6 separate regions of the Homo sapiens genome follow, and all the other regions are linked to region 1. The links come from fine-mapping of genetic effects on gene expression. A gene starts in region 1. Each other region holds a variant in brackets. All regions are shown on one strand. Distances are between the middles of the regions. Region 1 holds the start of ERICH1 (glutamate rich 1). Region 2 overlaps ERICH1 (glutamate rich 1). Region 3 overlaps ERICH1 (glutamate rich 1). Region 4 has its middle 80 kb from the start of ERICH1. Region 5 has its middle 66 kb from the start of TDRP. Region 6 overlaps ERICH1 (glutamate rich 1).

Region 1 (4,000 bases):
GGTCCTCCTCTTGCTTCATCCACATCATTGGAGACCAGTGGTTCGTTCTTTGACTTGGCTTCAGGACCTTCCTTTTCTCCCTGGCCACCCTTCATGTACCACAGCTTGGGCCCCCTCATCTCCCCACCTCTCAAAGGCCAGAGCCCCTCGGGGCTTATTCCTTGGACCACTTTCTAAAGTTCACGCCTGCTCCCTTCATGACCTCATATGCTTACTCATCTTATGAGCACCTCAAACTTGACCTGTCTAAAACTGCACACTACCACCAAACGAAGATCCCCAGAAGGCTCTCCACCTCCTCAGTGCAACTCCAGCCTTCCAGTTTCCAAACGAAAAATTTACAGCCATTCTACATTTCTCCTTTTCTGTCACAGCCCAGTTTGATCAATCGGAAAATCTCTTTGGCTTTACCTTAAAACATGTCCACAATCCAACTAGCCCCCCCACCCAGAACCTCCAGTGCCACCACTTGGATGTGAGCTGTCAGCATCTCTTATTGCAGCAGATGAAATCTCCACACTTCCTTCCATGCAACTCTAGTCATCACAACGCTAAATGACTTCTTTAAAATGTACATCAGGCCATGCACAGTGGCTCATGCATGTAATCCCACACATTGGGAGGCTGAGGTGGGAGGATTGCTGGAGGCCAGGAGCTGGAGGCTGTAGTGAGCTGTGATGGCACCACTGCACTCCAGCCTGGGCCAGAGTGAGACCCTGTCTACCCCAAAAAGAAAGAAAATGCATCAGATCATTTCACCCCTTTGCTCTACATCGTGTAACAACTTTCCACCCTGCTTCTTGGAACATGCAAAGTTATCAGGCTCCCTGCAGACCCTGCCTGGGTCTGGGTCTCCTTTCCTCCTGATCTGAGCTCCCCTTATCCTGCCCTTGCTTCTGGTCCCCAAACTCAAACAGGGCAGCCGTTCTCCTGGGACATCGTTTCCCTCCTGTGGGCTCTCTTTCCCTGGGCACCCCCAGTCTTGCTCCCTCACCTACCTCAAGCCCGCGCCCATCACTCTACAGTTAGGCCCTACCAGCTTCATTTTCCTCCAAAACACCCATCTCCGTGGGTTCCTCTCCTGAGACAGCCCACATGAGGAACAGCGCCTGGCACACACCTGGGAAATGTTTTGGAAGAAACGAATTCAAGGAGGAGGGTCCTGAGGGGGTGGAGCGGGAGGGCAGAGGCCCTTGGAGCTGGACAGGGAGACAAGAAGGGGTCTGGCAAGCCGGGGTGACGTGGGGGCCGCTGCCCTGACCACTCCCTGTGTCCCACAGGTGCCTGGGGGCCAGGGACACCGCCCTGGCCATGCCCTGTGTCCAGCAGGTGCCTGGGGGTTGGGGTCACCGCCCTGGCCACTCATGTGTCCAGCAGGTGTCTGGGGACCGGCTGGCCATTCCCTGTATCCTGTAGGTGCCTGGGGGCCAGGGACACCGCCCTGGCCATTCCTTGTATCCTGCAGGTGCCTGGGGGCCGGGGACACCGCCCTGCCCACTCCTTGTATCCAGCAGGTGCCTAGGGGCTAGGGGTCACCGCCCTGGCCACTCCCTATATCCTCCAGGTGCCTGGGGGCTGGGGTCACAGCCAGGGCCACTATCCGTGTCTCGCAGGTGCCCGGGGACCGGGGACACCGCCCTAGCCACTCCCTGTATCCTGCAGGTGCCTTGGGGCCGGGGGCACTGCCCTGGCCATTCCCTGTGTCCGGCGGGTGCCTGGGGGCGAAGCGGGGACTGGGGATCCGCAGGTGCACCCGTGGGGTTGGGGGTGGGCGCCTCTCCTCTGGGGCCCTCCGTTCCCCTCTTCTCCACAACGCCCTCCCTAGCGTTCGCCCCCAGAGTTCCGCCACCGCGTAGAGCAGTCGCCGCCAGCGCTCTCACAGCGTCCTCAGGTCCCCAAGAGCCCGCACCGCCGCCCCCGCAGCCCTCCCTCCGCGCATGCTCCACAGCGGGGCTCCCAGAGGCGGGTCTGGAGCCTCGCGACACGCCTACAGACTCGATATCAGCCAATCTACGGCCGTGATGTAGTTGACTGACCGCCCGTGGCGGGGTCCCGTATTCGGATTGGGCATTCCTGCTGTTGTGGGCGGACCCAGGAGGGCGGAACCCGGAAGGCACGGCGCTCAGCTCAGGACCGCGCGCCGTGGTCTGAGGTCCGCGGCAGGGTCCCGCATGGCGGCGCACAGGAAGCACGGTAGGTGGGTGCGGTGCGGAGGCCTGCCCAGACCCCAGACCCGGCTCTCGGCTCAGACCGCGGTGTTGACTCGGGACCCCGACCCCGGCCCCTTTCCAGGCCCCACCCCAAACCCAGACCGACTCCCCACCTCCACCCCAGTCCCTACCCATCCCCCGCTCTTACCCCGGACCGCGGCCCACCCCTCGCCCGTGTTGTTGCTTGCATGGCTGCTGGTCGGGCCGGCCCTGCCAGGCCCCACCTGGTGTCTGGGGTCCTGGGCGGAGGCGAGCCCAGCCAGGGATTCGTGTTCTTAGCAGAGCCCCTGTTGGTGAGTGAGTAGGAGCCGCTCAGCTCTTCAGAGGGGTCCTAGCCCAGGGCTCCGGGGTGGGGCTGCAGCCGGCTCCGGCAGCCTCACCGAAAAGTACAGCAGAACCTCCCAGAGCCACTGTGTCCTCATCTGAGAGACGGAGGTCATGGTGTTTACCTTCAGTGGACCTAAGGTGTGGGGCGCATCCTAGTGCTTATTAAATTCTGTGATAGCATTAGTACCAAAGACAGGAGGAGAATAAATAGAATTGGTTAACCTGGCCGTGCCTTAGAACGGAAGTGTTAGAAAATAAAGCGTGCTCCTGCTTCCTGCAAACCCCAGCTCATTACCCTCACCGTGTAATCATCATCATAATGAAAAGAGTGGCGGTTTTTGACATGAATCTCGTGTTACTTGGATTAATTCAGGCGCTGATGAATTTTTTTCCTTCTCTATGTTTAAAACTGATAATCATGTTTTTCCCTTTGAAATGAAAAGATAATGGCAAACTATAGTTATAAAACAATTGCTTAAAAAGAAAAAATTTCTCAGTGAGGCAGAATGTGGAGAAAAATATGGTCTCAAGTCTTCCTTTTCAGGGACACACTGCACGTGGGCTTCCCCCTCTCCTTCAGGACCAGGGAATTGTCACCTGATCAGCTCACAGGTTAAAAATGACCTAAGAGTTTTTAAGCAGTCACATGCTAGGCTCTAAAATGGACATTCACGTATGTTAATGAGCACCAGAAATACCTTGTTCATGACCCTCTCCTGGAAGCAGGGCTGGCAGGCTGTGAATTCAGTGTCGAGGTTCTTAGGAGCAGACCTGACGGTCAGCTGCCTGCAAAGCTGTGCCTGCCTTCTTGGTGGGGGGCTTCTTGCTACTGCAGGTTTTCTCCTTGTTTTAAACCACAACACACTCTTCTCTTACATTCCTTCAAATGTTTGCACTCTTCTAAGCCTGGAATAAATGCTCTTCTCTATGCAAGAAATTATTATAGCATCTGTAATGTACCTAATCAACTTAAAAAAAAAACCTTTCTCCATTCACCAAATTAAAGTGAATGAAAGCTGTTAATTGTTTTAGTCATTCACTAATCACCTTCCCTCGAAACAGCCTTTTTTTCCTATTGGATATGTGACAGAATGGTCAAGTAAATTTACGTTGTTTAAGGACATTGTGGTTGGAAGGATAGATTAATAAATCCCAAAAGTTTATAAAATGTAGGTGGGAAAGAAAATATTAGTTTTCTGTGTGTCTTCCTCAAGATCACCTGAAGAGCCCATCGGCTGAGTGGCACTTAGGCTCTGAGAGGCACTGAAGGGAGGATTTAGCTGGAATAAAACTTCCCAGCATTTGTGACCTGATGGAGCAGGAAACTGGAGTGTGTGTCTTCTTCAGAGCATTTCCCTTCTGCGTGGCTTGCAACGAGTGAAGTTAGGGGAAGGTGCCGCAGGAGGAGGGGATGGAGCTTGGCGTGTCCCCTTGCAGGGATGTCTGTTTTCCCAAGGTCCAGC
Region 2 (4,979 bases), 42 kb after region 1:
TTGATCTTTTTTAAGGTGCACAAGAGGAATTTAGAGTTTTCAAATAAAAGTTGTACCTAGATGATTTGTAACAATATAAACTAAGAAACTCTATATTATAAACATTAATTAATTTGAATATCAACAAAATGTGGTTTTTGACTGCTTTTGTCTTTCTGGCTTCCTAAATTAAAGGATCAGAAACCATAAAAACAAAAATGAGATAACTAAGGAATAATGGATTCATCCTTTCAAGCCCTGTTGAAAATCTTTGAAACACAATTATTAGATAGATAGATTATTTAACTAGAAAATGTGCGTTCTTATGAAGATAAATTCCTCTGGGTGAATATGCTTCATTGCGTACTTAATCTGTCCAAGAAGGAAGTGCGTTGGCCCTCACTCACGCCCTTCCTGTTGTCCGCGGTTGGCGCTCTCGCCCCGTTGTACCGCGTTGTCCATGCTGCTCATGTTCCCAGGACAGGCCTGTGCTGGACCCCAGGGTAGAAGGCTCGCTTGGCCATGAGCCAACACTGCTTCCCAGACAGGCTGTGTCAGGACTGAGCTACAGCAGTGTTCTTACAGGAAGTGGAAAGATACTTGCACCACATAGACAGGCATTTCTCTTCACAAGCTGCTTCTTGAGGACACGTGTCCAGGAGCCCTTGAGGAGTCACTCCTTTCCTGTTGCCCGGGCCCCCTTGCCACCTTCTCCAGGCGCCAGTGACTTGAAATGGTAAAGTTGGGAAAAAGACAGCAAAGCCCACCCTCTAATTGTGTTTCCTACCTTTGTTCTTCAAAATGAAAGAGAAAATGCCCAGAGCAAGCCCCAAGCACAGCCTTGCAGCTGCAGAGCCGATGGAGCCTCCAGGGCCCTCAGGAGCCAGAGGCCAGGAGAAGCAAGGATGGGACCCCTCTCTCTCTGACCCTCCAAGGTCAGTGTGGGAACACGGCACACAAGAAGGAAGAGCCTTTGAGCTTTTTTGGTTGCAGTTTTAAGCACAGAGGTGAGAACTGGAGCTGGAAAAATAACGGCCAACGTTGTTGTCGTGGTCTCTCTTGGAAGCACTCAGGTCACTGGCTTTCATTTTGAACACGTGGGGCCCACACGTCAACTCCCAGGAAGCTGCAGAGGAAAGTGCTGTTTGTTTTTGCCTTTGCTGTGCCTGGCACCAGGCCCCCTGGGCATTCACACTCAGGACCTTGCGCAGCCCTGCTCTGCGCCGGGGCATCCCCACAGCAACTTGGATCGGCCGCCCAGGGCCTTGTCGCCCAGGCAGGGGTGGCATACCTGGTGCTTAGCCCTCAGTCTGGCCCCTCCTGGCTGCCCGGCCTCTGAGACTTGGTTTCCACCCTCCCGGAGGCCATCTAGGCCCCCGCAGCGGCACTTGCTGCGCCCTTGGGTCTGCCGGTCCCGGTTCCAACAGGCTGAGGGCCTGCCCTTTGTCTTGTCCTGGGTACCTGGCTACTGCCTTGTGATAAATGGAGATTTAGTGCTCACTGACCATATCAATTAGGGCCTGTGTGTATTTTTTATGAAGACAGGCAGACCTGTGCCCAAAAGCCAGGACAGGAAGACCTAAGTACCAGCAGTTTGTCTCAGTCTGTCTTGTCTGTGTTCTTTGGGTAATCTCTGAATGTGACAAGCACAGACTGTGGGTGCTTTTGGGCTCACAGCTTGTCAGGAACAGGTGGAAGGAGACGGGCTGTGGGAAGTCTTGAATGGCATTGTGTTGGATGTGGTTCTGGGACCTCTGCCACCTGGGTTAATGGGTCTTGGCTCTAGACAGAAACATGCACGTACTCCTCCTCTTGTTGACGTGGGGTTGCGTCTTGCTCTCCAGAAGCCAGTAAACCTCTGGCCTGTTAGTGACAGAACAACCCACTATAGATTGTGCCAGAAGAAAGTTGTCCTTTTTGGCAGAGTCTCCATGGAAAATGCTACACAGCCACATTTAGCAGGCGAACTCACTTATCTGGCAGGACGCTCTTCTGCTCACGGTCCTGGCGCGTCGTAGGAACACTGCCCTACATGAATTTACAGAGTCTATTACAGTGATGTGGACATTCCTCTGGGCAGCTGGGATAAGCACGTTGTGCTCAAAATACCGCTTACGTCCGTCTTCTCCTGTGTAGACCGCATTACAGGACTCTGGACCCAGCTGACCACTGTGGGGACGCTGGGCACCTTCCCAGCAGCACGACAGTGTGTCCCTATGCCACGGTGCCGGAAACAAGTCCAGCCATGTAATTTTTAGAAGAAAATGTCCGCAGTGCCCCCAACATGCCTCTTCCCTGGGTTTTCCAGTGGCACACAGTGCTGGCAGCTTGCATGGTGGTGCACCTTCCTGCTCCTGCCAGACACCTCCAGGAGGAGACAAGGGGTGTGGGGGCACCGCCAGCATCTGAAAGCCTCGTTCAGGGAACACAGGAATTGATCAGTCCGTTAGGTTTTGGAAATGCTTACCTTACATCAAGTCAAGATCATAGGTGAGGCCAGGCGCAGTGGCTCACGCCTGTAATTCCAGCACTTTGGGAGGCCAAGGCAGGCAGATCACCTGAGGTCAGGAGTTTGAGAACAGCCTGGCCAACATGGCGAAACCCTGTCTCTACTAAAATATAAAAATTAGCCAGGTGTGGTGGCATGTACCTGTAATCCCAGCTACTC[G/A]AGACGCTGAGGCCTGAGAATCGCTTGAACTGGGGAGGCGGAGGCCGTGGTGAGCCGAGATCATACCACTGCACTCCAGCCTGGGCAACAGAGCGAGAATTCGCCTCAAAAAAAGAAAAAAAAGATCATACGTGAGCTCTTCACCTAGTTTATATGAGTGTACCTCTCTGGGAAAATATCATCTTGGAGTTTCACTTTTCATATTCATCTTTTATTGCAGATTAATCAAAAGACCTGGAGAGTGTTGGCCTTTTTTCCTTGTTTTTGTAAAACTGTCATTTAAAATCTTGTTCCTTATTCATTGTGCAGTCACTAGCAGTTATGTAAAACTCCAGGTGAAAGGTATTCCCTTTAGAGTTCAGCGCTAGAAAAATATTTTGTTCTTATGAACTCGTGTACTTCTTGTTGGATAAGAGAGAGATTTCCCATCGATACCCTTTTTGCTTTTGCCACCAGGAAGCTCAGATTTCAGCTTTTCATTGTTTTTATTCAGTAGCAGTTGTTTCCTTTGACCTCCAGTTTGTGGTAGTTACTACCTTTCCCCACTTCTCTGCTGCTTAACTCATTCTTCTTAGATTCTTAAAATGGCTTGTTTTCTGAGCTACATCTTTTCCTTTTTGCAAGTACACTGAGTAATCAGGGTTTACCAAGTAATTCACTGAATCAAATGCTTTTTAAACGCTTGTGTTGGGCGGTGTGCTCAGGCCTAAGAAAGGGAAGAGCGCCAGGAGGGCCGTGGCGTTGTAGGAGCTGACCCTAGCTGGGGAGGCTCCTTTGTGAGCCTGGCCTACAGAATGGGCGCGGCGCTAAGGAAGGCCGGAGGGAAGCGGAGCCTGGGCGCCTCTGGAGCCTGCGGAGGGACCGGGGGGCGGGGCCGAGGTGGGGCTAAGCGTAGAGCGGGATGGCGCCGAGGTGGGGTGGCCCGGGGCGGGGCGGCGGAAGGGCCGGGGCGGGGCGGGGACGGGCGGAACTGGGGGCGGGGTGCCGCTTTACCTTTTCTGCGAGAACGTCGGGAAACCTGCGTGGGCGGCTCAGGGGCCTTGCCGTGTCCTGCGCCCCGGCTCGCCACGGCCTTGAGGGCGCACTTGCCCCGCCTGGGTTGCAGACCCTCCCTCCTCTCCTGTCTCCCGTGTTTTTGCAGCCGGGAACTGCATTGGGTGCCTGAGGAATTTGACCGCGCGCCGCCGCGCGTCTCCCCCGCCTTTCCAGGGCCTCGGCGGGAGCTGGGGCTGCGGTCGGGGCTCGGGACCCGGGCAGGTCTCTCGGCGCCTTCTCGCCGCCGGGATGTCCTTGGAGCCTCAGACCCTGCTCGGGAAACCTGGGTGCCGTCTCGGCTGGAAGCCTCGGAGGCCTGCGCCGGTTCCGCGCGCTCCGTTCTCGGGGCGGGACCGCTGCATCCGGGGCCTCTCCGCGCCTCGCCCCCGATTCCTCCGTGGCTGCCCCGTATTCCACCTACTACGGCCTCGGCTAGGGCCCCGCGGGCCTGGCGCGCTCCCCCGGGCGCGGCGGGCACTGGCCGCAGTTCTGCCGACTTCAGCCCTGGGTCCGGTCAGCGCTGCGTCCTGCCTCGCCTGGGCCGCCCGGGCGCTCCCCGCGCGCTGCCTTCCTCCTGCTGCGCTCCACAGGGACCCGCCTCCCTCCAGTCCTGCTCCCTGCGCCGCTGCCTCCCTCCACGGGTTCCCGCCTCTCCCCTGCGCCCCCTCAGCGCGTGGTGTTAGCGGGCCCCTTCTCTGCCCATGGGGTGACAGTCTGGACCCACACGCTTAGCGTTTGTTGTGCCAGACCGTCTGGGCTTATTGCAAAGCTTGTGCAAACGTGAGCGTTGCCGGCTTTTTATTCCCCGAGGAGCCTTATCCTGGCGCCTGGTGGAATTAAGTCTTAAGTCAATATTTGGTGAACTGCGTTGAATGATTATGTATAAAAACAGCCCGTAAGGCAAGTGTTAGTGTTTCCCCGGTTCCTAATCACAAGCGGTGTGAGGCATTGACTCAGATTCTGTGCTCAGATCCAGCTACAGAGTCATGAACATAAGTCATTTCTGTGGAGAGCTGTTGTGATGGTGATTCTAGCAGCAAGCACCAGTTGAAATAGTTACTAACTTCACGGCTTCTGGAAGCATGCAGTAAATGCACAGTTATAATGTGGATTCCGTTTGAGTTAAACATCCGTACATGCTCTGTTTTGACAGAATCGTGGCTCTCTCTGCCTTTTGCCTTTCCTGAAGGAGTCCTAGCGTGACTTCTCTTAGCCTTTCCAGAGTGGCTCGTGGGTGGGTGATGGGGCTGCCCCCCGCTCCGCATTCCTCGCATCTCACCCTCTCAAGGGCCTGACA
Region 3 (4,979 bases), 27 kb after region 1:
TCTTTTTGTTGTTGTTGTTGTTTTTGAGATGGAGTTTCACTCTTGTTGCCCAGGCTAGAGTACAATGGCATGATCTTGGCTCACCACAACCTCCGCCTCCTGGGTTTAAGCAGTTCTCCAGCCTGAGTAGCTGGGATTACATGCGTGTGCCACCACGTCCGACTAATTTTTTTTGTATTTTTTTAGTAGAGATGGGGTTTCTCCATGTTCGTCAGGCTGGTCTCGAACTCCCGACCTCAGGTGATCCGCCCACCTCAGCCTTCCAAAGTGCTGGGATTACAGGCGTGAGCCACTGCGCCTGGCCTTATCTTTTTTTATATTTTTCCTTCCAGTACTTACAGGACGTAGAAAAGTTTTACCGTTTTTTAAAAAGTGTATTCCAAAGTATTTTATTCTTTTTGGTGCTATTGTAAGTGGAATTGCTTTCTTTTTTGTTTGTTTTCTTTTGGGAATGTTCAGTGTTTGTCTGTGAAAATGCAAGGGATTTTGTGTATTGACCTTGTATCCTGCGGTTTTGCCTAACTAGTTTATTAGCTCTTACATTTTTGTTGTGGATTTCTTAGATTTTCTATGTACAGTCACACATCACTTAACAACGGTAATACATTCCAAAGGAGTCCATTGCTGTGTGAGCAAAGTGCGCTTACACACACTAGACAGTGGATCCAGCTGCAGGCCTGGGCTGTGTGGCACAGCCTGTTGCTCCCAGGCTGCTCGCCCAATCAGTACATGCCTGTGCTGAAGACAGTGGCAACTGTAACACCATGGTGAGTGTTCATGCATCCAAACATTAAGAAGGTGCGGTGAAAATACAGCGTTATCATCTTCAGGGTCCGCCGTCCTATATGCAGCCAGCCTTTCAGCATCCAAACATTAAAAACGTACGGTGAAAGTGCAGTGTTACCATCTTCAGGGTCCGCATTATCTTAAGGCTCCACCGTCCCCCATGCGGCCAGCCTTTCACCAGTGTCTTTTGTGGTACATCACTGTGCAAGATGCTGTCATCTGTGATTTCGGGTAGTTTTACTTTTTCCTTTGTGAGTAAAGATAGTTGTACTTTCCCTGTCCAGTCTGGATGCCCTTTGCTTCCTTTTGTTGTTGTTGTTGTTGACTAATTGCCCTGGCTAGAAGTTCTAATACGATGTTGACAAAAAGTGCCGTGAGTGGGAATCCTGGTCTCATTCCTGATCTTGAGGAGAAAGCATCCCTGTTTTCACCATCCTGTATGATGTTAGCTGTGGGTTTCATACGTGGCCTTTATCATGTTGAAGAAGTTCCCTTCTATGCCCAGTTTATTGATTTTTTTTTAATCATGAACAACATATTTTTGAAGTGCTGTGCCTTGGAAATGTTAAAGGAAAAATGTTATAATTTACTTGCATCTGGAAAAAGAGAAGTCTTGGCCGGGGGTAAAATGATGAAATCACAATAAAAAACGTAAGAACCGTGGGTCACTTCTGCACGGGCCATCGCGCAGTGTCCGTTGAGATGCACGTCCAGGAGGAGTCCTGCTGGATATCAGGGCTGGGCCGAGTGGCGCTCTGTGAGGGACAGGAGGCAGCCGGATGAGGAACAGTGCCCACATCCGTCCTTGGACATGAGACGGAGGAAAATGTTCTTGTACGGTTAGGTCAAAGCATGGTAATTATGGCAATGATTTAGCCAATTGATTGATATTTGTTCACTTCACACGATCTGTTTCTTTGGTTCTAGAAGAGTGTTGATAATTCCATTTGTCCCAAAGATAAGACTGATTTGTCAACAACCAAAATAACTGGTGTATGTGCATTTTGGTAAACTTTTTTCACTGAAGAGCCCATATTGAACTTTTTTTTAAATTTGTCAGTTATGTGTTGCATATATTTTAGATTCAAATAATTCTCAGGAATTATTATTAAAAACAGCAATGTTCTGCCCATCACTCCAGTCACACACCCTCCAGCTCTGCAGTGGCTGCTCCTGGGTAAAACCACCCCCCCTTTCAGAGTCACGCACTTAC[A/C]CTGTTGCTTCCTGTTTTCTTCTTCTTTTTCTTTCTTTTTTGGCAGGGAGGGAAGGGATTAAATCTTATGTATTGACTTTGGAAACTAAGGATTTTGGTTTTTTTTAGCAGCTTCCCCCACCATGGATGCACATTTTTTACAACCCCCGTCCTTCCAATATGATTTTTTCAAAATGTTTGTACATCAGTATTGTTTACATGTTTATGTCTCCGTAAACACCGTTTCTTGCTGAGTCACATAACACACGATTATTCCGTTTTGTGAAACCTTTAGTGGAGTGAGCAGAGCTTTAGTAGAGTTAATAGTTTTCTTGGATTTTTACATTTTCTTCTAAATACTTAATAGTACTAATTTCTCCCCTCACCTCCCTGTCCTTGTTCTATGGTCAGACACATTCAGGGTCAATGAGCTTCATCTTCCGTGGCCTCTTCCAGACTGTTCCACCCCCAGCATGGGCCGCCCCCAAGTCCTTGCCGTAACTCCCGGTCTCACCTCTCCCGGGGGCTTCCTTTGCTGTCCTGGGCCTCAGTCTTTTCATTTCTTGGGTTTGCTTCCATTTTGTTGAAATGCGTTCGTTAGTAACTTCCTGAAAAATGGTTTTTGGGAGATAAATATTTTAGAGATCTTGAAGGTCAAGTATACCTTAATTCTTGTACTTAAAAGTTTTTCGGGGTGTAGGATTCTGGGCTAATAACTGTCTTTCACACTGGAAGTCTTTAACATCCAGTGTCGCTGTGAGAAGGCAGTTGCCATCATTCTCGATTCCTGTGGCTATGAGCAGTTTTCCTCCCTTAGGACAGTTTGAGGTTCTGCTTCTGGCCTTCATGTGGGTGCAGCCTGATGCTGAGGTCTTGAGCATGGTCTGTTTTCATCTGTCGTGGCCTCCGTAGTCTGGGAACATGTGCCACTCTCTTGTTTCCTTGATCGTTTCCTCCTCTTTGCTTTCAATCTTCGGTTTACAGAATTCCTGTCATTCAGACATTGAGTCTCCCAATAGATCCCCTTTTTCTTACATCTTCTCCCGGATTTTTTATGGTTTAGTGATTTGAGACCACTTTCTGGGAGATTTTCTCAAATTTCATCTTCCACCCTTCCGGCTGCACCCTTCGTTTTTGTCACTGCGTCTCAGAGTTGGAGCGGGAAGGAGGAGAAGAAGGGTCTCTCACACTCTCTATGGACAGGCTCTCCCTCCCTGTTTATCTTATGGAGTCTTTGCCTTCAGTTATGGTGCCTGGGGCTCCTGGGAGCCAGGCCTGGCCTTTGCAGAGAGTGAGTCCCGGTCTCCCACGGGTGGTGGGGAGGCTTCCACAGCCTGCCTGCCCCCCTTTTTCTCCCCACTTCCAGGCTCCTTGGCGGCCCCTCTGGAGCAGATCTCGTGTCTGCTGTGTCTCGGCTGCCATTCTAGGATTCAGCATCCCGTCTACTTTTCACTTTCCAACACTGTATTTTTTTCATCTGTCCTTCATTTGTCCTCTGTGTGTTGCAAACCCACTTATTCTCATTTTGGTGGGGCCTTAGGAGGAGGATGGGGTGTGTGCACTTGGTCTGTCCTGCACCTTCATCTGTATCTTACTGACGTGCCATTAACAGATAGGATGGGTTCATTTCTGTGCATTTGGCTGTGCTGAACTGCATTTCCCACAGTTCCCTCCCCGAATGCTCCTGGTTACAGGGGGACACGAGAGGCCCTTCTGCCTGAAATTCGGAAGGTGGACGTAAGCCCTTTTAGTTTCCAGCTCCTGGAGGTGAAAGCTCACGCAGCTCATGTGCATTGTTGCAGACTTGCTGCCTGCCTGGGTGGTGTGGGCAGTTCTGGGCCTCCGGCTCTCTGCAGCTTCTTGGGCCCTCCTTCAGCTAACCCCAGGCGTGCGGGGTACCTGTCCTGGGTAGGACACCCACTGCTACCCTCAGCAGCAAGGACGGAGACAGGCTTCCATCTGGTTCCCGGGGCATCCAGCTCTCGCTCCTGCCTTCTGGCTTCCGCCCTGCCCCTCTGCGTCCATCACCAAGGCTGTGCTGGCCGAAAGGGTCCACTTTGGCGGGTCTTGGCAGTTAGCTGAGGGCACCAGTGTCGCTCCCACACAACATGCAAACCCTCCTGCCGAGCTGCGACCTTCGCCTGTCACGGAACCTGGTGCTGAGTGTGGTGAGAGTGAATCCTGCAGCACGTGGCGCACTGTCGGCCTCTTTCATGTTTAGCTTTTGATTGTGCTTATTGTCCATTTGTATTTCTTCTTCTAAGTGTCTGTTCAAGACTTTTCCGTCTTGGCTGGAGGTGGGAGGTGCCTGCTCCTGTGTTTTCTGGCATCTTTCTCTGCTGTCTTTGTGTGTCTGCACTCAGGGAGTTTCCCTGGGGTGTGTGCCTAGAGAGGTGCTGGTTGTACATTTCAACGTAGGGACAGATTCCCAGCGTGTCTTTAAAGGAGCTGTGCCGCTGTGTGCTCACTTGACTCGCCGGCGTTCTTGTTTCTCCAGGCCCCGGTTAATACAGAGTGTTTGCAGTCTCGCTAATTGAGTGTGAGGTTTCTGTTTCTTATTCAATGCACGCTACCAAGCTAACAAAACTGGACAGCCTTTCACGCCTCCTGGCCATCTGCCTTTGCCCGTGTTTCTGCGGAGCTTGTCTTACCAATTTCCGGGGTTCTTTAGATGCTTCAAAGCCCAGCAAACACCTTCTCTCAGTGGATTGCCTTTCCTTTTTTTTTTTTTTTTTTTTTTTGAGATGTAGTCCCGCTCTGTCACCGAGGCTGGAGTGCAGTGGTGCAATCTTGGCTCACTGCAAGCTCCGCCTCCCAGGTTCAAGCGATTCTCATGCCTCAGCCTCCCGAGTAGCGCCCGCCACCATGCCTGGCTAATTTTTGTATTTTTAGTAGAGACGAGGTTTCACCATGTTGGTCAGGCTGGTCTTGAACTCCTGACCTCTTGATCTGCTTGCCTCAGCCTCCCAAAGTGCTGGGATTACATGCGTGAGCAACCGCG
Region 4 (4,979 bases), 80 kb after region 1:
CATAACATCCTCAGGGTTCCTCGTGTTATAGCCTGTGTCCAGACTCCCTTCTTTTTTAAGGCTGGATCATATTCCATTTGTTAAAAGAAACACTTCAACTGAATTAAATTTAAAGGAGTTTAATTGAGCAATGAATGATTCATGAATCGGGCAGCGCCAGAATCACAGCAGATTCAGAGAGACTCCAGGGATTCCTCGTGGTCAGAACAAATATATAGACAAAAAAAAGGGGAAGTGATATATAAAACTCGGCAGTGAGGTACAGAACAGCTGGATTGGTTCCAGGTTGGCATTTGCCTTATTGGAACAGTTTGAACACTCGGCAGTCTACGCATGGTTGACGTATGGCTGCTGGGATTGGTCAAGACTCGGCCACTATTACAGGCGCAGACTCCTGAATTAGGTTTTCAGTCCTGTCTGCTATTAAGGTAGGTTATAGTTCGTCCACAAGGACTCAAACATAGACGTCCTGGCATTCTTCTCAGGCCACATTTAGTTCGTGTTAGCACATGGCACTGTGTTTGTCCATTGATCTGTAGATGGACATGGTGCTGTTTTCACCTTTTGGCTGTTAGAATAATGTTACTCTGTACATGGGTGTACAAGCACCTGTTGAGTTCCAGCTTTCAGTTTGGGGGTTTATGCCCAGAAGTGGAAGGGCTGGATCATACGGTAATTAAATCTGGGTTTCATTTTCTGAGGAATTTCTACCCCGTCTTCCACAATGGCTGTACCGTTTTTCATTCCCAGCAACAGCACATGAGTGTGCTCATTCCTCCTCATCCTCTCCAGCACTTATTTCTCGTTTGTAAAAATATATGATAATCATCCTGATGGTTATGAAGCAGCACCTCGTGGTTTTGATTTGCATTTCCTTGCTGATTAGTGGTGCCGGACATCTTTTTGCGTGCGTGTTGACCTTTGTCTATCTTCTTAGGAGAATTTCCATTCCGGTCCCGTGCCTACTTTTGGGTTGTTTTGTTTATCACAGTTTTTATAAACCAGTTCTACATCAGATGAGCTGTGTGCCCCTGGTCTCTCCAAGTAGCTTAAATTCTCTGAGCCTGAGGCATCTCCTAGGAATGAAGACACCCTGTAAGCTCAACACCATTATTCATGCCTAAGACAACTACACCAATTCCCCAGCTTTTGAATGACCATAGGAATTATCAGCAGAACAGGACACTTTGGAAAGTGAATGAGGTGGGATTAATAATTATGCGGAAACAGCAGGTGTGAGCCAGAACCATCCCAGGCAAGCTCGTGGTCACTTTATGTGATATCAACTCCACTCCGTTCCTATCTAGATTTCCCCACTGTCCCCAGCACATCTTTCCAACCAGCAGCCAACAACGGTCGGGCTCTGCATTTGGTTGCGAGCCTGTGTTGTCTCATTTATCTCTGTCCACTGCTTCCCTAAAGGTGGTGACTCTGACGGGGCCAGGCCCCAGTCTTGCTCTTGTAGAACAGCTTCTCCCTCCATCACGTAACCTTTCCTCCTGCTGGCTGCATTTCCTGCCACCGGAAGTAAGGTCTTCAGGCGTCGGATTCAGAGGGCACGTGGGTGCAGGGTGAGTTCAGGGAAGGCGTCGATGGGGTGGCATGGAGCACCAGGGCAATCGCTTGTCTGAAGAGGTGAGTGCAGAGCCGTCGGTGGTAAACCTATGCAGAGATGCCCCAGCGCCCGCAAACGCTCTGCCTCCAGGTCCCCGGATGCCTCAGCAACTGCCAACGGCCTTTTCCCAAATCAGTGCCTTCATTCGGGTTGCAAAATAGTTGATCTTCTAATTTCACCATTCCTGCCACATTTATTACCAAGCATTCTGTGAAAAAGGCTTTTTTCTCATCAAGAGGAAATGAAACACACTTTCTCTTAAGCAAGGGGGAACTGCTGAAGTCAGTCCCTTTCCTCACCGATTTCCGAGTAGAGTTGACAATGATGTCAGAGTGGCTGCCGAAGGGAAACCAGATGCCCTCCCCTCCCGCTCCGTCTCAGCCTCTCTCTCCCCTCAGTCTTCTCCCCCCTCCCACTCCGTCTCAGCCTCTCTCTCCCCTCAGTCTTCTCCCCCACCCTGCCCGTCTCCCTCGC[T/G]CTCTGCCTCTCCTGTCCCTGCCCACCAGCTCTCTCTCTGGCTTACCTGTTTCCCCTGCCCCCAGCTCTCCGTCTCTCTCCCTAATCCCCCTTCCCACTTCGTGGACTCCCAGGTTCTTCTTTGGGCAGTGGGAGCCTCTCCGGGCTGGCTCCTGCATTTTCTCCACCTGCCCCATTGCCAAGGGCACTTTCTTGCTCTGAAGGCCCTGAAGCCCCAGGCTTACCGGAAACTTTCTGTGCCCCGGAGCTGGGATCAGCTGCTTCTCCAAGGAGCCCTGGGATGATATTTGTAAAGATAGATTGCAAAATTAGAATTAGTATTTTCAGAATCCCTTCCCCTCTTTTCCCACTCCCACCCAACCCAGTGTCACAGTGTCAGGCAGGTTCGGGAGATGAGGACGCCTAAGCCCAGCGCCACTTCTCTTCCCAACCCTGGACTAACAACTTGAGCTGAACCAGATGTGAACTGAAGCCCAAAACAACTGACATTGACTTGCAGTGTCTAATTCAACTTAACTGAAATGCAGTATCAATGTTGGCCTGAATCAAGCCATGGCAAGATGTGTGATAAGCCAGGGACTGTGGCTCCCCAACAACGCATCTTCCTTAAACCACTGAACCCCTGCAAGACTAGAGCTCTATCGTGGACGAACGAGGGGTGTTCTGCCTGGCTTCGGTGATTCGTATCTGCTGTCATTTGTAAACTGTTTATACACCGCCTTGGTGACAGGACCCCAGATCTATTTCTCAGTCACACTCAAGGAGCTCTCCTGGGATAACACACTCCAGGGCTCTCAGTCGGACCTTTCACCATGAATCGTTGAAGCCTCCTGCGGTGGCTGCAGCCCCTTGCTCTGGCTTTATCAGGTCAGGTCTCGGCTCTGCAGGCCTCGGAGCCCACAACAGAAGAGACCCTTTTATCAGCGTGTGCTGCGGGGTGGCTGCACCCTCTTCAGGGTCAGGGTGGCCTGAACTTGCGTCCTGCGCCTCATGTCCTCCTTCTCTCCTGCCCTATGGCACGGTGCCGGCTCTGGAATCTGAGCGCGTTGACACCGGTTCCTCCCTGGTCAGGCTGGCTGCTTCCCTTTCAGTGTCTGGGGCCGGCCTCGGGGGTACCTGCAGCCACCGGGGCGGCTGCTGCTGGGAGGTCAAGCCCATTTCGTCCTCACGTTAGGATGTGACAGTGCCCTGCCGAGGACGGTAACTGAGATGGAAAACGAGTTAAGGCGACAAGGGCTGCCCTTTCAGTGGGTGGCATCCGTGAGGCAGATGTCAGCCCCCAGGGCAGGAAAAAGGAAAGCCCGTTCTGCCTGCATCCTCTCCTGAGACCGTGTCACTAAAGTTGGAACGGGGAGACCCAGCGAGGACAGGGGCCACGGAGTCAGACCCCGGGGACAGAGTGCTGACTCGGCCTGGCGGAGGCCGGCGTCCTCATCGCCAGCACGGAACGGGACGCAGCTCCTGAGTGCAGAGAGGAACGCGGGCTCCACGCTGTGCCGGACACGCAAGCGCCCTCAGCTCTGCGCGCTCCCGGCATGGAGCGAGCGCTGAGACCGCAACCTTCCGGCCTTGTTCTTCTGAACCGGCACGAAAGCCGAGAGCAGGACACGCAGGTCGCGCTCAGCGCAGGGAGGCCGCCCTCGCCGGGCGCGGTCCGGGGTGCTCAGGCTCTGCAGCCCCAGGTGCCAGATGTCGCGGCTGCCGTCTTCTCCCTGACGCCAGCACACGCTTCCCCAGGCCCGGTCCTGTCACGTCTCCTCCCAACCTGGGGCCACTGCTCCTCCCAGCCCTGACAGCGATTCCTGGAAAGCTCTTGCTGGAGCCCAGCTGTCAGCTCACCTGCTCTGATACGCCGTCCGCCCTGTGCGGCTGCTCTGTCTCCACGTGGATGGATGGTGCCTGCGCTCATGGTCACACTGCTCAGCCAGGGGCCACAGGGCCTTGGAGCCCCGTCTTCCAGCTCCTGCCTCCTGGAGGCAGTGCTTCATGATCTGAGCCCACCTTCCTGCAGGAAGGGCTCACAGCAGCCGGCGCGGCCCCACCCCAATCCCCCTCCCCCGAGAGAGGTACGGTGCTGGACATCCAACAAAGGTGACAACAGGGCTCACCTCTCCCCTGTGGATCTTCCCCCCGGGGCCCAGGGGCTCTGAGCATTTCCACAATGCACAGGATACACCCACCCTGGAATTCTCTGTGCTTGACCTTGAGGACAGCATAGAATAAAAGCAAGCCCCGCTCTTAGCCGAGAAGCCAGTTTAACCACACTGTGAGCGTAAAAGCCCTTCTGCAAACTCTATTCTTGTTGTTTTCAGGGTGAAATGCAAAGAAATAGGTATGTGTTATTTTAGCTAAATATTTGTTTATTCTAAAGACAGCTGCACTGGCACAGATATGCCATCTCTTACTCTCCCTGGATGCTGGTAGATGCTGGTGGACAGGAGGAAAGCCTGGCCTCACAGTTTCCTGCCCCCCATGTCTAAATTCATCCAGGTAATAAAGTGCGTCTGTGTCTGTACAGGCAGTAACTCAGATCAGCCCTTCCACAGTGGCACACAGTTCCACAGAAAATCCTGTTATCAATAATAGCATTTGAATGAATTTGGGAAATCACCCTGCTGAGCTTAACATATTTGCACTAGTATGCAAATATCCCTGAACACACCCACTGGAACTAATCCACTTAAAAATATGCAAAGAGATTACAGGCAGGAAAATGTCCTGTGTATAGATTTATGGGAAATGACAGAACTGCTCTCTATTTTTGCCTTCAGAAAATTAGATTCCCAGTATTTTATATTAGAATCTACTATCATTATGCAATTGTTAAATTTCCTCTTTAATTTTCATCTCTGAAATGTGGTTTTCACCCAGTCATCAAAATACAAAATAA
Region 5 (4,979 bases), 120 kb after region 1:
TGCACGGTGTGCTTGGCCTGTGGCACCAGAGCTTTAGGGCACTGGTCTTTCATCGCTGGCCATGAAACAGCAAGGCTTTGAAAGGAAGGTAGATGGAGTGTGCAAACCTTGTGGGAATCTTTGCTTCTTGGCAAAAGAATGAATAAGTGAATTTGGTCATGGAGAAAATTGCATGCTAGGGGCATGTTTGTAACTACCGTCTGTGTTTGTAGTAAAGCACTCGATAAGTATTTGCCAAAAGAATGACCAATAAATCAATACAGCTCTTAAATTTTTCAAGCCAATTTGACTTTATGCAACTTTTGAAGCTCTTTCACAGATAATGAAACAAAGGCACAAAGAAATTAAGTCATACAAGGGCCTTGGAGAGCTTATTGAGCAAATATTTTGTGTTTTATTTATCAGTTCTGACTAGGATTTTATAATTTACTCCTATAACTTCCATATATTTTCCTTTTCTAATGTATTTTCTAGATTGAGTCTCATGAATATTGAATTTTCATTTTGAAAAATTTGGATCTGTCTACACATATGAAATTCAACCCATTAGGCATTCTTATAATTTAAACAAATGTTCTTACATAAGAAGAGTAATACATTTAAGATATACCTTTGTCACAATTTCTGAACTCTACCTAATGAAAATTCTCTTTCATGTTTGGAATATTTTCCACTTCAAGTGCATTTTATCCACATAATGAGGTTCATAATTCATTCTTTAATATTTTTATTTTGTACATTCTATGTATATTATGCATGCATATGCACAAATACTTTATTGGTCTCCAGATTTTATTCACTGGCATGTCATTTTAAATAAAAATTGGAAAGTAAATGAAAATAAATCTATTTACTTAGCTAAATTAACATTAATACAAGATACAACAAATCTGCAAAGATTTTCTTCATCCACGGAAACGAGGCCCTGAGCATTTTCAAATGTTGAGGCTTTTCAAACTCTGCTAGTTACTGTGTTAGACAGTTGATTCATGTTCAAGTACCTTATACCCTCAGGACTTGCCCTGATATCTTAAATGCAGGCATTGCAATGCATTGCTTTGTTACTCTACATTGTAATTGTCTTTGAGCCCTCCAGTAGGACGTGGGGCTTGGAAAAGACCAAATCTGGCTCAGCCATGCATGCTCCATCGGCGCCAGTACTTTGCTCTTCCTCTTTTAATCATAAGAAATTGAGTTAAAAGAGAAAGAAAATCTATGTATTTTATTTTGTGAGGGAATGCATTTATGCTGCAGCATATAGAGATGGAGGTAGAGAAAGATATAGCGTGCTAGCTCCAATCAAAATGGATCCATTTCAGATGGGAAGGAAGATGTTCTTTAAGGACAGTCACAGGAGCCTCTGGTCAAGAGTTGATCCAGGAATTTAAAATCCTGAGCGTGTCATTTCCTTCCTTTAATGCTCTGGTGCATTCAAAACCAGCTGTTGAGCTCCATGGTACCCGAATCCCTCGCTCTCACCACGATGGCTTGTTGCAAATACAATTCATCCTTTCTTAAATTTATTTAGAGATAGCATCTCGCTCTGACATCCAGGCTGGAGTGCAGTGGCGTCAGCACAGCTCATTGCAGTCTCGACCTCCCAGGCTCAAACAATCCTCCTGCCTCAGCCTCCTGAGTAGCTGGGACTACAGGCGTGCGCCACCATGCCCACCTAATTTTTGTATTTTCGTATTTTTGTAGAGACAGAGTCTCCCTATATTGCCCGGCTGGTGTCAGCTCCTAGGCTCAATGGATCCCCTTGCCTCAGCCTCCCAAAGCACTGGGATTACAGGCATGAGCCACTGCACCTGGCACAATTTTCTATAATGAGGTTTTTAATGAGCACTAGCATCCTATGTTATCCATATGCAATAGTATTTATATAACTTTTTGAACATTTGCGATATTACCCATTTTGCTTCTCTAAAAAAATCTTATATTTTAAAAACTTAGTGGAAGATGCAATCTAGCCTGAAATCCTGATACTAGGTTTTAGATATGGTCCTTCTCCTCAGGCAGACCTCACAAACTCCAGCGAGTCTGTGCCAGCCGGGGCGGGAATGCGTCTTACTCGTGTGCGTGCTCCA[G/C]GGTGCTCTGCTGAAAATGTCAGGTCTCAGGAAACACAGCTGTGCAGAAAATCTGAGATTCTCCCCACAGGGTGTTTTGTGCTTGGGCCCTACACAGTAATTATCTGTGACCATTTTGGAAGCATAATTCTGGCAGCAAACTGCATTTTAGAGTGAAGGATGTGGGGTAATTCATAACATGATTTACTCTAGTCTCCATATAGTCACTCTTAAGTCTGAGTTACATAAAAAGAAAGTCTAATAAAATAAATTGCAGTTGAAACATAGTTGAGCTTGGCCCACAAAAAAGAAACGAGCAAAAAATATCATTTGTCTCCGAGGTTGATATGAATGACCCTATTAGACATCTATTTTCTCAAATCTCACTTTGGGACCTTTTATCTCTCAAAATAAGACTCATTTTCCCAAGTCTTTCTGAACCAAACCACGATGGTTTGGTTTCTGAACCAAACTTCCGGAACCGTCGTAGGCAGTGTCTCGAATGTTGTGATGAGGTGATACTCAGTCTTTACAAGTAAGAAAGACAAACTGAGAGACAGCTCTAGATCAGAAGAGAGAATGGCAGCGGCTTTTCAATTTAGGTCACTCTAAAGATAGAAAAACTAATACCCAGGGCTTAAGTGTGGAGTATAATGACACATTGTTCCAAGATAAGTCAGCATATTAACTTCCTTTTAAAAATTCACTGGAAGATAAAATAAATGGAATTGGTTTTCACAGCAGTTAATCAACTCCTCTCCACTGGGCTCTGCACCACCAACATGAAAATCTAACTGCAGTAGCTGAATATATACTTAATTGCAAGGCACTTTATTTTAGGAAATGGAAGCCACGCTTAGCACTTAGTCCACTGGGAAGAAAGAGATAAGTTGTGGTATTTGGTAATTGGGTAATTTTTGGAGAAAGATTTTGCATTATTTTTTAAGCATTTTTCAAACAGATGCTGGTTCTACACAAACCCAAACCATCCAGGAAGTTCGGTAAATCAGACAACTTGTGTTTTGTTGACAGGGACTGACCTCCTCCCTCGCCATCTGCAGAAAAATGTGCTACTAAATATTTATTACACCCCATCAGATATTAAATCATAGTTACATTTAAAAAGACACAAATTTCACAAGGTCCCCGGAGCCCCTTCCAGCTACTCAATGACTCACAGGCTCAGAACATCATGCAGCTCTCGTGCCAGGAGCTCACAAGACAGACCCTGCCTGACTCCCACCCAGCCCAGGATGCTGTTATTGATAAATGCAGCATTGCTGAGGCGATTGAGCTGTTCACTTTATTTGAGGGCTTGCCATCATCCTCGCAAGAGCCCCAGGGGGACGCAGCACGGTCCCTCCTGGCAGGGGAAGTACCCGCTCGTAAGGCAGGGGGCTTGTAGGGATCCGTTCGGGGCACCAGAGATGACGCCGGTACTCCTGCCAGTCAATCAGCCATCAGGATCAATCAGTTCTGGGTTTTCTATTTACTCCCTCCCCTGAGACGTCACCCCATCCATTCATTTTCATACCTTTAAGGGAAGTTGAAGAACTTTAACCTTCACTCAAGACAACGGGATATGATTTAGGGCTAAAAAGAAAAGAACTTTCAAGCCGTGAAAAGACGTGGAAGAATTTAAATGCAGATTACTAAGTGAGAGAAGTAATCTGAAAAGGCTTTTCAATCTGAAAAGGCTGCACACCGTGTGATTCCAGCTACAGGACAGTCCAGAAATGGCAGAACTATGGAGACAGGAAAAAGCTCACTGGTTGCCAGGGCTGGTGAAGAGAGGGCCTGAAGCCACGGAGCACGGATGATTTTCAGAGCAGTGAGACTCTGTGATGCTGTGATGGTGGGTACAGGTCATTACGCATTTATCTAAACCCACATAATTTACAGCCCCAAAAGTGAGTTCTAACTGTTCTAAACGATTGATTTTAGTTAATAATAATTTACCAATATTGGCTCATGAATTGTAACAAGTGCACCGCACTAAGACAAGATATAAATAATAGGGAAAACTGGAGAGAGGAGGTATGAGGAAACTTTGTACTTTCTGCTCAATTTTTATATAAATCTAAACTTCTCTAAAAAATAGTCCCTTTTAAATGCTATATTCAAAAGTATTGCATACAGAGTATGATCTCAATTATATGTGTAAATGTTGGAAAAATACTCCAAAATGTTAATGGCTACCTCTAATGATGGATTATGAATAGTTTTGGTGTTCTTATTTATAGTTTACTGAATTTTCTTATTTTTATGCAATGAAAATATTATTCTTTAATCATTAAAAAAAGTGTTTCATATCACTTTGTTTAAATAAGGCACAATCTCACAAGTATAACTGTACTTCAGGGAAAATAGAAAAGAATTTTGAAATTGTTATTGTTTCAGAAAATCTAGGGACTGTGTTTTCTGTTATTACACAGATCAAGCCACATTCCCCGAGAGACTGACACTAAAATAAGAACGAATGTTGGACAAGTTCATGTGTGTCTCTGGCTGATTCAACGCAGCAGAAGTTATATAAAAGTATTGGTGTACATTAAGACAAGGGTATGAGAAAGCACGTTGCAATTGTTTAAACTCCCCCTGGCAGAATGAGATCCAACGGGAAATGAGAGATGAGGATGCACTTGACTCTCTTAAATTCCACTCCATACTGGAGTGTGTATGTCAGGGATTGAGAGTGAAGCCAGCGTCCTGCCCACCTGCTGGTCCATCTGTAATTTTGCTGATTCTCTATTCATAGAGCAGTGTTCCATGCATTTTCTTTTTGTCAAGGAGCCAGAATTTTGTGAAGGTTAAATAGTTGGTTGGTGTTTCGTTGTTTTGGCTGAGTGGCGAGGGGGTATTAGGGAGAACTGTCTTTTGTTTTTTGCTTTGGGATTCATTATGTCCTTTGGT
Region 6 (4,979 bases), 59 kb after region 1:
GGAGGCAGAGGTTGCAGTGAGCCGAGATTGTTCCACTGCACTCCAGCCTGTGCAGCAAAGTAAGAGTCTGTGTCAGGAAAAAAAAAAAAAAAAAAAAAGCAACAACTTGTACATCCTTCAAAACACACCATATATTATGATTGTCGCATCTGTGAGTGTATGTACTGCTAATTTATATTACGTTAGTCCTAGGATCTTTGATGGTAAAGTTGAGAATCACCGAAGTAAATAGTGTAAACTCTTTTTCTACTAAAACTACAAGATCCTGATGGAAAATTTATTTAGCCTAATATGTTTGTTATGGTTTCATTGTACTGAAAATTGTTATATTTGAATTTTTTTAACAGATCAGGATCCTCATGACCAGCCAAAGAGAAGAAGAATTAGGAAGCATAAATCAAAGAAAAAATTTAAAAATCCCAATAATGTTCTTATAGAACAAGCAGAATTAGAGAAACAGCAGAGTCTGTTACAGGAGAAATCTCAGCGACAGCACACAGATGGCACCACAATAAGCAAAAATAAAAAAAGGAAACTGAAAAAGAAACAGCAAATTAAAAGGAAGAAAGCAGCCGGCTTGGCAGCAAAGGCTGCTGGTGTCAGTTTCATGTACCAGCCCGAGGACAGCAGCAATGAAGGGGAAGGCGTGGGAGAGGCTTGTGAGGAGGATGGTGTGGACACCAGCGAGGAAGACCCGACACTGGCCGGGGAGGAAGACGTTAAAGATACCAGGGAGGAAGATGGTGCGGACGCTAGCGAGGAAGACCTGACACGGGCCAGGCAGGAAGAGGGTGCGGACGCCAGTGAGGAAGATCCGACACCGGCCGGGGAGGAAGACGTTAAAGACGCCAGGGAGGAGGACGGTGTGGACACCATTGAGGAAGACCTGACACGGGCCGGGGAGGAAGACGGTAAAGACACCAGGGAGGAGGACGGTGCGGACGCCAGCGAGGAAGACCCGACATGGGCTGGGGAGGAAGAGGGTGCAGACTCCGGGGAGGAGGACGGTGCAGACGCCAGCGAGGAAGATGATACAATTACCAATGAAAAGGCACACAGTATTCTAAATTTTTTGAAGTCAACACAGGAAATGTATTTTTATGACGGTATGTTTTTTACTGTTTTTCTCTTGCATAGTGACATCCACTTAAAAGTTTATTAAAAGAAACAAATATAATGCTTAAATGTTAAAACATACTTTAAAAATATTCAATGTAAAATAATTAGTTGTAAGGCAACTAATATAAGTAAAAAATATTCAATGTAAATAATTAGTTATAAGGCAAAGATCAGAGTATTTATGTGCTTTCCACCGATGATGTGGATGGGCATGCGCCCCTGGCGTATCCAGAGAAGCAGTGTGGTGGCCCTGGCCAGCTGTGCCAAGGACAGGCTGGCCCCGTGTCCTCCATGCCTCTAAGGTCAGGTTTTGGAGTGTGTTGGCATCCAGGCTATTTTTCTAAACAAGAGATAAATCCAGATTGGAGGTTTTGATGAGCTGAGCTCACCTTCATAAGCAGACTGAGAGGTGAAGGAAACACAGCTTGCGCCTTTAGGACAGGTTTCATTTTCTCTTCCACATAGAACGGATGCACGATTTCTCAGCATGCATTATTGTGCAGTTGTTTGTACTGACATAAGATAAGGAAAATAAACATAGGTTTAATGTCACAGATGGCACTTGCTTACATCTGCACTACGCTTTGTTGACAGCTGACCTAGGGACACGTGGCTGCCCCAGAACAGAGATACTCACCGTGCGCTGGCTTCCTGGCTTTCTTCTCTTTAATTTTTTTTAATACTGTTTAATTTTTGTGGGTATAGGTGTCTTTTCAATGACGTTACCAGCAGGTTCAGGTTAATGTGGTGGGTTTAGCAGATCCAGATTTAAGCAAGGCATTTGATGGTGTTCTTATGAGCAAGATTGAGAAATATCAGCTATGTAATAATTTGGGAAGTAAGTAACTGATTTTAACAAAGATGCAGAAGTACCATTTTTAATAGATTGATTTCAACACGAAGAGCACTCTAGCCTCTTCCTCTTTAGCGTGTTTCTCAGCAGATTGTATTAACAAATTGAAAACATATATCCAGATGGCACATCAGGAAGACATGGCTAAGACACTGCAAAGTAGACGCAGAATTCAGAAAGATCTCAGTAAACTTTCTATTCTGTGTGTGATCGAGCAGCTTGGGGCAGACCAACAGTCATGCCAGGAGTAACCAGAAAGCCAGGATG[G/A]GAAACACCTGTTGAAGGGATCAGGAAGCTACTCAGGAAAACAGCTCATAGAAAGATGGAACTCCTGGAACCCTCACGGGGAGATTATCATGGAAACATCTGCAGCCACTTGTCTTCAGGAATCTGCAAGTCCTGTGTGTGGGCGTTGGGTGAGGGTCTGGGGAAAGGACCTGGTGGAGCCCAGAGAGGCAGAAAAACCAGCCTCACAGGTTGAGAAACCAAAAGCAGAGCCTGGAGCCCAGTGAGCACAGACAGAGCCGGGGCTGGCAGGTTCAGAGGTCGCAGCCTGGAGCCCAGTGAGCACAGACATTAGAGCCGGGGCCGGCAGGTTCAGAGGTCTCAGCCTGGAGCCCAGTGAGCGCAGACATTAGAGCCGGGGCCGGCAGGTTCAGAGGTCTCAGCCTGGAGCCCAGTGAGCGCAGACATTAGAGCCGGGGCGGCAGGTTCAGAGGTCGCAGCCTGGAGCCCAGTGAGCACAGACATTAGGGCCGGGGCCGGCAGGTTCAGAGGTCGGAGCCTGGGGACCAGTGCGCTCAGTGGTCGGAGCAGGGGCCAGCGGGTTCAGAGGTCAGAGCCTGGGGACCAGTGGGCACAGACATTACAGCCAGGGCCGGCAGGTTCAGAGGTCGGAGCCTGGAGCCCAGTGAGCACAGACATTAGAACCGGGGCTGGCACGTTCAGAGGTCGGAGCCTGGGGACCAGTGAGCACAGACATTAGAGCCGGGGCCGGCAGGTTCAGAGGTCTCAGCCTGGAGCCCAGTGAGCACAGACATTAGAGCCGGGGCCGGCAGGTTCAGAGGTCTCAGCCTGGAGCCCAGTGAGCGCAGACATTAGAGCCGGGGCCGGCAGGTTCAGAGGTCGGAGCCTGGGGACCAGCGCGCTCAGTGGTCGGAGCAGGGGCCAGCGGGTTCAGAGGTCAGAGCCTGGGGACCAGTGGGCACAGACATTACAGCCAGGGCCGGCAGGTTCAGAGGTCGGAGCCTGGAGCCCAGTGAGCACAGACATTAGAACCGGGGCTGGCACGTTCAGAGGTCGGAGCCTGGGGACCAGTGAGCACAGACATTAGAGCCGGGGCTGGCAGGTTCAGAGGTCGGAGCCTGGGGACCGGTGGGCTCAGGTGTTGGAGCAGGGGCCGGCAGGTTCAGAGGTCGGAGCCTGGGGACCAGTGGGCTCAGGTGTTGGAGCTGGGGCTGGCAGGTGCAGAGGTTGGAGCCTGGGGGACCGGTGGGCTCAGAGGTTGGAGCAGGGGCCGGCGGGTTCAGAGGTTGGATCCTGGGGACCGGTGGGCTCAGAGGTCGAAGCAGGGGCCAGTGGGTTCAGAGGTCAGAGCCTGGGGACCAGTAAGCTCAGATGTTGGACCTGGGGCCAGGGGGTTCAGAGGTTGGAGCTGGGGCCGGTGGACTCAGAGGTCAGAGAACAGAACTCAACACTGCATGGCTTCCCTTAGAACCTTTGCCCAATTCTGAAGCTGTGGGTGGAAGATGAGAAGCCACACAGAGAGCCTCCGAATAACATAGGAGCCTCTTGGCCATCTTGAGGTGCTGATGAGATGAGGATCGGCCTGACCCTCGAGCCCAGCAGAGCAGGGCAGCCCAGAAGCAGATGACACTGTCCCAAATGTGTGGCCACCCTGGAGTCAGCTCAGTCCCTGCACGGTCCAGGGGATCCCCCTCTACTCGGTCTGCCTGGCGGAGCAAAGGGTGAGCCCTCTAGAGGAAAATGTCGCCATCCTAGACCTCTGCAGTCTTTCCTATGCGTTCAGCAACAGTTTACCGGGCATGCCACGAGACAGGACCACAGCACCGAAAACCACGAGAAAAAAAGAGCAGTAGAGCCACAGTGGGAGAGGCCGATGTTATCAGATAAGGAGCCTAAAATAAGGGGAAAAAGGAAAAATTGGAGCATTTCGCCAGGTAATTTGAATCTACTAAAATAATCAAATGGAAATTTTAGGCCTGAGAAATATAGTAACTAAAATTCAGGCCTCAAAAGACAGGGAAACAGCAAATGAGAGTTGGTATAAAAGAGAATTAGTGACCAGGAAGACAGGTGAAAGAAAGTCCCCAGAATGCAGAGTGGAGAGAAAACGGGTGGAAAACACAGGAAAGAGCCCGGCAGACATGGAGTGGGAAGTTGTGTCCCTGAAACAGGCCCAGGTGGAGAGGAGAGAGGACGGAGCGGGGGCAGGACGGAGATGTGACATTTGGGAGTTTTACACCATTGTTACAGGACACAGAGTCACAGGTTGAAGAAGTCCTGCCAAGTCCAAGCAGGGTTAACGCCGAAACCACCAGAGGCAAGTGAATTGCAGTCATACTGCTGAACAGCAGCCAGAGAAACAAGACCAGCAGCCAGATCCAGGGGAAGTCGGGGGCTTGTTTTCAGTTCTCCTTGATTTCTTCTAAACAGCCACAGTCTGATTCTTTTTTTAAGCGATGTGATGTGGACATAGAGAGCTTGCTTTCATTGTCTGGTTTAACCTGCTGCTGTTCGTAGCCCTGAGTCGTGTGTTGGACAGGGAAGGCGTCTCACCAGACAGAGGTGTAGACGGGCCAGGGGAGGCGTCCCACCAGACAGACGTGTAGACGGGCCAGGGGAGGCGTCCCACCAGACAGACGTGTAGACGGGCCAGGGGAGGCGTCCCACCAGACAGACGTGTAGACGGGCCAGGGGAGGCGTCCCACCAGACAGACGTGTAGACGGGCCAGGGGAGGCGTCCCACCAGACAGACGTGTAGACG

The links.
Region 2: its variant is fine-mapped to the expression of ERICH1 in cerebellar hemisphere (GTEx, PIP above 0.99).
Region 3: its variant is fine-mapped to the expression of ERICH1 in whole blood (INTERVAL, PIP above 0.99). The same link has a PIP of 0.9 or more in neutrophils.
Region 4: its variant is fine-mapped to the expression of ERICH1 in whole blood (TOPMed, PIP above 0.99).
Region 5: its variant is fine-mapped to the expression of ERICH1 in prefrontal cortex (CommonMind, PIP 0.94).
Region 6: its variant is fine-mapped to the expression of ERICH1 in esophagus mucosa (GTEx, PIP 0.99). The same link has a PIP of 0.9 or more in lung and unexposed skin.

The regions. Positions count from the first base shown.
Region 1 is chr8:729,333-733,332 of GRCh38, reverse strand. ERICH1 (glutamate rich 1) reads left to right here and starts at 2,109. Exons shown (of 6, transcript NM_207332.3): 1 at 2,109-2,193. The coding sequence starts at 2,172.
Region 2 is chr8:686,905-691,883 of GRCh38, reverse strand. All of the region lies in intron 3 of ERICH1 (glutamate rich 1), which reads left to right. Among named protein-coding and RNA genes, the nearest start is that of ERICH1, 42 kb to the left of the region's middle. RefSeq lists a silencer at 3,712-3,971 and an enhancer at 3,551-4,205. The variant G/A (reference allele first, on the strand shown) is at 2,648.
Region 3 is chr8:701,817-706,795 of GRCh38, reverse strand. The region is part of intron 2 of ERICH1 (glutamate rich 1); the gene reads left to right. Among named protein-coding and RNA genes, the nearest start is that of ERICH1, 27 kb to the left of the region's middle. The variant A/C (reference allele first, on the strand shown) is at 2,000.
Region 4 is chr8:648,768-653,746 of GRCh38, reverse strand. It overlaps a transcript of ERICH1 not described here. Among named protein-coding and RNA genes, the nearest start is that of ERICH1, 80 kb to the left of the region's middle. RefSeq lists enhancers at 1,101-1,600, 1,601-2,102. The variant T/G (reference allele first, on the strand shown) is at 2,090.
Region 5 is chr8:608,654-613,632 of GRCh38, reverse strand. No RefSeq gene overlaps it. Among named protein-coding and RNA genes, the nearest start is that of TDRP, 66 kb to the right of the region's middle. RefSeq lists an enhancer at 1-321. The variant G/C (reference allele first, on the strand shown) is at 2,088.
Region 6 is chr8:669,416-674,394 of GRCh38, reverse strand. ERICH1 (glutamate rich 1) reads left to right here. Exons shown (of 6, transcript NM_207332.3): 4 at 348-1,106. Among named protein-coding and RNA genes, the nearest start is that of ERICH1, 59 kb to the left of the region's middle. The variant G/A (reference allele first, on the strand shown) is at 2,240.